2 linked regions of the Homo sapiens genome follow. The protein of the gene in region 2 purifies or fractionates together with the protein of the main gene of each other region. This does not show direct contact. Each region holds a gene or a part of one and is shown on either strand. Other genes may lie near its edges.

What was found. The genes of interacting proteins can lie anywhere in the genome.
Region 1: the proteins of NDUFA5 (region 2) and SLC25A24 fractionate together in Homo sapiens (co-fractionation; one large-scale study listed by BioGRID). This does not show direct contact.

What each region holds. Positions count from the first base shown.
Region 1 is NC_000001.11:108,155,344-108,158,843, forward strand, and holds part of SLC25A24 (mitochondrial adenyl nucleotide antiporter SLC25A24), read right to left. Parts: intron 2,278-3,500; coding exon 2,119-2,277; intron 1-2,118. UniProt on the Homo sapiens protein: Electroneutral antiporter that mediates the transport of adenyl nucleotides through the inner mitochondrial membrane. Originally identified as an ATP-magnesium/inorganic phosphate antiporter, it also acts as a broad specificity adenyl nucleotide antiporter.
Region 2 is NC_000007.14:123,544,319-123,547,818, reverse strand, and holds part of NDUFA5 (NADH dehydrogenase [ubiquinone] 1 alpha subcomplex subunit 5), read left to right. Parts: intron 1-1,001; exon of another isoform or gene 1,002-1,161; intron 1,162-2,142; coding exon 2,143-2,208; intron 2,209-3,500. UniProt on the Homo sapiens protein: Accessory subunit of the mitochondrial membrane respiratory chain NADH dehydrogenase (Complex I), that is believed not to be involved in catalysis. Complex I functions in the transfer of electrons from NADH to the respiratory chain.

The sequences.
Region 1 (3,500 bases), on a different chromosome or scaffold from region 2:
ATAATTGGTATCTTCAGTGTGAGAAAGCAGAGAGAGAAGACAAGAAGAGTATTAAAATTATGAACAACCTTCATAAGATAATATTAACTAAATTATGTATCAGGCAATGGAACACCCTTTGAAACATGAACAGGCTCAGTTAAAGGGAAATAAAAAAGTATACTGCAGATAATAATATTATATTATTACATATAATTTAATGTATGTATATTATTACATATAATTTAAAGTAATATGTTACTCCCTCTCCTCAAGAAGTAGTACAGACATGAACTGTAAATGGGTCTGAAATGGTTTGGATATTGTGTATATCAGGGCTACCAACACTGGAATGCATACAGCCTGAAACCAAAAATAAAAATTGCACCCTCTTTGGCATATTTTGAGGCCCTCTCTAGGCAATAAATTCATTACAACATGTACCCATCCTGTGAGTACTGATAAATTACTTGGCTTATACTACAGATGTGGTAGTCACTTAAAAATACTGTACCTTATGACCACCTACAGATAAAAACTGATTAAGTCCAATACACCAAAAATAATTAAACAAATCAGCTATTCTTCTGATTGTTTCAGCTCACATAAAAGGGGTGACTACCACTAAACACACACACACACACACACACACACACACACACTCACAGAACGGGTTGAATTCTGAAGGCCAGCCATGTGGCCAGTATGAAAACGGGCCCCAATAAGAACTCTGCACACCAAAGGCTCAGGTGAGCTTCCCTGGTTGGTCTGCAATATTCCATGCCTAGTGCCACATAACAGTGCCAGGAAAGTAAGACATGGAGACTCCACAGGGAGAGGACAACAGAAGCTCTGCCCTATGTGCTTCTTTACTTGACTGATTTTCATCCGCATCTTTTCCCCGTAATAAACCATAACCAGGGGTAATAAGCTTTCAGTGAGTTATGTGAGTCTTTCTAGAGAAGTATCAAACCTGAAGGTTGACTTTGGAAACTCCTCAAATTTGCAGAAACTAAATTCCAGAGAAATCCATTTTATTTTAAATAAATAAACTTCACAATAAAATAGGACAAAGGAAAAAATAAATGCTTATTCAAGTTCTCTAAAAGTCAAGTTACTACTGTTCCTAAAGAAAAACACACACCAATCCCCTCTCCTTTTTCTTTAAAGCATTAGCTTTGCCCCTAAATAAATTTTGAGATTTGGGTACATTCTGAAGGAATGCTGGCTTAAAACAGTGTCAGAATCTTTTTGTACAGAAATCTACAGACAAATATAAAAAGTGTTGACCATAAGTATAACAAAGTTTTAAAAATATTTTGTAAACAACTACTATGTTCCAATAGGTTATTCCAGTGTACCAGACATTATCACATACCTGATATTGCTTGATTCTTAAACCATTCTTATTAGATATTCTTATCCCCATCCCAGAATGAAGGAAAATGAGACCTCAGAGGTTTCATGCAGCATGAGAACCAGGAGCACTGGAGGCAAAGATACTGCATTCCCCCTCTCATTTGTTGTAAAGGAAAAGTCAATTCTCTGGGCCTCAGATTCCCCCTGGAAAAATGATAAAATACCTACTTCACTGGGCTGCTGCAAGGATTAACTGGGTTACCACAGTGAGCAAATACATATTAATTCTTTTCCATTCCCTCTTTCCACTCTGGCCAGCCCAATGCTACACTGCTAGTAAATAGCAAAGTCAGTCTATAAAGCCAGATCTTTTTCTGCTAACCTCAGCTTTAGAATAATTTTCAAAATTACATTGCTGCTCTAAGATTCTAGATTTCAAAAATACTTTACTTTTGATAAAGTATATTAAAAAGAAGGAAACTATAAATCAGGAGAATCCTACAACAATAGCTAGAGATATTTTTTGAATTAAATGTTTGAATAGTCATAGAATGCCAAAGATTAAAAGTTCATTACACACATGTACTAACAATTTAAGGTTTGGTACACTGCCATACTTACATGGACTGAATTTAGAGTTAACAGCAACAAAATAGATTTATTTTTTAGGGTATAAAAGATTATTACTGAGAAATTTTAAAACTTCTTTTTCAAAGCACCACATTTCTCATTGTTTTAGAATATTTAGGGCAAACCTGGACACACGATAATAAAGCTCACCTGCATCATGATTTTCAGACGGTCCAAAGGGGCAGTGCTTGTTCGAGAGACAGCACCAGCAATGCCTCCTGCCAAAAGCTGCCTCCACCATTGTCCGGATTTTTTTTCGTCTTCCGTGAATTCATCTGGAATAGTTAAGCTATCCCCTATGTCAATTCCCTGTAAAAATGAAAAAAAGATCCCCATGCGCCTTAGTTAAAAATAATCCCAGAAGACGTTTTGTTTTAGAGAAGAATCATGTTATTTTACAGTTAATATGAACTTCATTCCCTAGAATTTATACTAAACCAATTTGAGTACATAGATTATAAGTTGTCTACTCACAATGAACAAAGTACAGTATCAGTTCACAAGAAATGAAAATAAACAGTAATTACAAATATACAAAACCAACAGTTACAACTTTCTTTCATTCATCATAGATTCACAGTATGTTTTCTCTTGGTCTAGGTTAAAATGAAAGGGCAGCATTTTATCATAGTCAATCTTTTTTATTGCAACCATTTTTCATAAGGCTAGAAAACCAACTGGTGATGACATCTTTTAAGAAATTCGTTCATCAATTCTTAAACAATACTTCCTTTATCTCAAATTTATATCCACATCATATTTATACCATGATATGTTTTAAATATGTAAATAAAAATTAAAACTGTATGTGAATACCCCTAAACTCATTTCCTACTGTTTATAAAAATATTTTTATAAATCTGACTTATCATTTAAAACATGCAATAGATTCTATATAAAATTTAGCTAATGGAGAGGTATTGTTTCAAATCATCACCCCTTCAACCTATTCTACATTACTATAGTTTGAGAGAAACAATTCTATAATAATATTTTTACAATTCTATTATCTAAATTGTTTTGGCAGAAAAATTTTTACAGGCAAGAGTGCAACGGGGAGGAGCTCTCCTATGGTAGTAACCCTCCCTTCCTTCATTTTACTATCAATAAAATGGAGATACAATTGTAGTCTCAACTGTTATCAACTACCTTAAAAAATACCGTAAGAATTATGTAAATAAAACTTCACATAGTGTACAATTTATCTAGGCAACTGAACTACTAGTATAATATTATCTTATACTCATAGCTGAGAAGGCACTAATCACCAACAATTTTATAATGCTTTATGTAAGCTTAGGCATTGTTACTAGTGGCAATGTGAACTCCTGACTTCATTTAATGCATATTTAATTTAGTCAAATCTGAAGTGTAGAAGACAAGCCCATAAAGAAAAAAAAAAAAAAAAAGGCCGGGCACAGTGGCTCACGCCTGTAATCCCAGCACTTTGGGAGGCGAGGCGGGCGGATTACAAGGTCAGGAGATCGAGACCATCCTGGCTAACACGGTGAAACCCCGTCTCTACTAAAAAT
Region 2 (3,500 bases):
CCATTGGTGACTAAAAATCACATTATTCACTATCGGTAAGACAAATTTTGAACTGTTCACCTAACACAGGCTTTTTCTGAAATGAAAGTGTCGTTGAACTTTCCTTGCCTTCTTTACCTTCACTCTCCTGAGTCTCTTATAACAGTGACCAGCTTCCCTGTTTTGTTTTTGATTTTTGGTCTCTCATATGAGTTAATTCCCTGTTAAATAATCTGTCTTAAACATGCTTATTACTTTTTCCCCTTTTCTCCCCCTTTCAGCTGTTTTTTATGTATTCACTTCTTTAACCAAGAAACATTTATTGAATGCCATGTATGGTTCTAGGCATGGAAACTTGTGCCTAGTTGGCACAAAACAGATAAAAATCCTTTCCTTCTTGGAGATTACATGTTAGTGATGGGAGACCAAAAGAAAAAAAAAAAGTAAAAACTGAGTAAAGACGTACATAGTGTGTTAGAAAATAGTAAGTGCAGTGAAGGAAAATAAAACAAGGAAAATGTGTGCCATGGTGGGGATAGGGGATGTTACACTATGTATTAATTTCGTATGGCTGCTGTAATATTCCCACAAACTTGGTGGCTTAAAACAATGTAAGTTTATTTTATTAGACTTCTGGAGGCCAGAAGTTGGAAATCAACATCAGGGACCCAAATCAAGATGGTGTTGTCAGGGCTGTGCTTCCTTTGGAGGATATTGGGTAGAATCTGTTCTTGCCTCTTTCAGCTTCTGGTGGCTTTTGGCATTTATTGGCTTGTGGTCTCATCACTGCAATTTCTGCCTTTGTGGTTACATTACCTTTTCCTTTTCTGTGTGTAATATCCCTCTGCCTCTCTCTTATAAGGACACTTATAATTGCAGTTAGGGACTATATGGATAATTCAGGAAAATCTCCCCATGTCAGCATCCTTAACTTGATCATATATGTGAAGTCTTTGCTGTATAAAGTAACACTCACAGTTTCTAGAAATTAATACATGTATATCTTTTGTGGTATTTTTCAGCCTATCATAATGCAAATTATCAGTAGTTAATCAATAAGAAGGTGTTATTTGAGCAAAGATTTGAAAAGTGGTGAAGAAACAAGTGATGCAGATACCCTGGGCCATCCAGCAAGATACCCTGAGGCAGTAACATATCACGTCTTGTGTTGAAAAGCAAAATGTATTATTTTCTCCCTCTTTATTCCATTTATTGGCCAGAAAAACACCCTGAAAAGACAAAGCCTTATTTACATATGTGGGTATATTTACAGAGCATGATTTCTGGCTCAAAAAGCTCAGTTTACTAGAAAATAACTAAATGTCATTGAATGTTCTAGGTACTATATTTATTAACATTTTGTTCTTAAAAACTTCTATTAAATAATTATATACATTACAAATGTGTAGAAAAAAAGGACTTTTCCAGAACAACAAAACCCTTGCCTCTTCCCCTTCAATTTACTACTTGTAAAGTTAATCTCTATTTGGACTTCTTTTTGCCTGTTTTTGAATTTTATATAAATGAAATCATTAGTATGTACTGTCTTATACATACTGTACTCTGGCTTGTGCTTAATACTGTGGTTAAGAGAATCACCTATATTGTTGCATACAGTTTATTCATTTTCATTGCTGTGAAGTATTATATCCAAATATTATAATTAATTGATCCATTCTATTACAGATGATCATTTGGGTTATTTCTAGTTTGGGGCTATAATTTGTGCTGCTGTGAATATTCTCAAACATGTTTTTTAAAAAATATATTATGCATTTCTGTTTGGCATTATGCCTAGAAGTGTAATTTCTGGGTCATAGAGTAGCATTTATTTCTAATTCTAATGCTCTCAGAGGAAATACAGGAAATATTAAGAAAGCAAAGTCATATTTTAAAATCTGTTTTAGGAAGACTGAATTTGACATTGTATTTCTGTCCCTTGATCAGCATGTCAATAAACATTTAGCACTTTTCAATATTAAGACAGAAAAGCAATGAAATAGCAGAGGTGAAATGAATTTTCACCAAATATTTAGTAAAAAGAGTATGATGAAAGAAAAGTTGTATTTTTAAGTGTTTTTATATAGGAATTTTAAAATATATAGGATATTGAAACATTCAGTTAGTATGCTTCTTTAATTTTTTTTCTCCCTGAAATTATAGGAACCAGATGTTAAAAAATTAGAAGACCAACTTCAAGGCGGTCAATTAGAAGAGGTGATTCTTCAGGTAAAGAAAAAGTTGACTATTTAGGTGTTTGGTTTCATAGAGACACACAACTGACGTTCTAGAATGAAAGGAAAACTAAATTTCCTTGTTTATATCAACTCGTCAAATATGTAAGACTAATCACATATAGAAAATGTGGTGCTTCTCATGTGTATGTTGATTATAGTATTTATTGTTGATTATAGCATGAATTTATGAGACTTCTGTTAGAAGCCTGGAGTTTGACACTCTTTTAATTTAATTAGCATGTTCTCCTTGGCCTAACCTTAGTTTAAATTGGTAGCACAATATTACTGTTGTTTTAATAGTTGTATCTTATTTTAAGAGTGTGGCATATTTTTAGTAGGGAAAAATACAGACATTTTGAATTATAAAATTAAAATGTACTTTTATTTTTATTTTTGGTTCTTGAGCATTTGAGCAAGTTAAAAAACAATTGCATAGTATATTTGAGAGCTTAATTCTACATTATTTCCCAAATACTAACCCTGACAAATAATATTGAGTAGTAAAATGTAAGCATGATTATGAAGAGACTGAGATTAGAAAAATTATTAACATTATTAATTACATTTAGAATATTTAAATCTTAAATTATTCTATTGGGAAATTTTCTTCTCCTCTCACTATACCTGCTGCTTATACAAGAGAACAAACACCGCAGTTTAGTTTTATTTAATCTGAATTTTAATTCTTTTCCTTTGGTCATAGTTAGGTTATAGAAATAGATAGGTTACTGATGTAAATAGGCTGGAAATATACTATTTTGAGTATTCCGTAGTTGGTTTTTTAAAGCATCTATGGGAAAATAATGATAACTCTTTTTTTTTTTTTTTTTTTTTTTTTAAGATTTGCATCTTTTTTCTCCAATTGCTAGTAAGGTTAAACTTTAAAAATATGTTCTTATATTTTATAAATTATGTCATTAATATTTTTACTGGGTCATTTAGTCTGGGTTATTTATACATGAGTGTCTTTTTATAATAAAAGATATTAACCTTAAACTTTTCTGACATTGTCTGCACATACTTTTTCTAGCCTGCTTTTGCCTCTCAAATGGGGTTTTTCCCCCATATGTAGAGGTTTTCAATTTTTTTTTTTTTTTTTTTTTTGAGATGGAGTTTTGCTCTTGTTGCCCAGGCTGGAGTGCAGTGGCATGATCTCGGCTCACCACAACCTCCGCCTCCCGGGTTCAAGCAATTCTCCTGCCTCAGCCTCCTAAGTAGCTAGGATTACAGGCATGTGCCACCACATCCAGCTAATTTTGTATTTTTAGTAGAGACAGGGTTTCT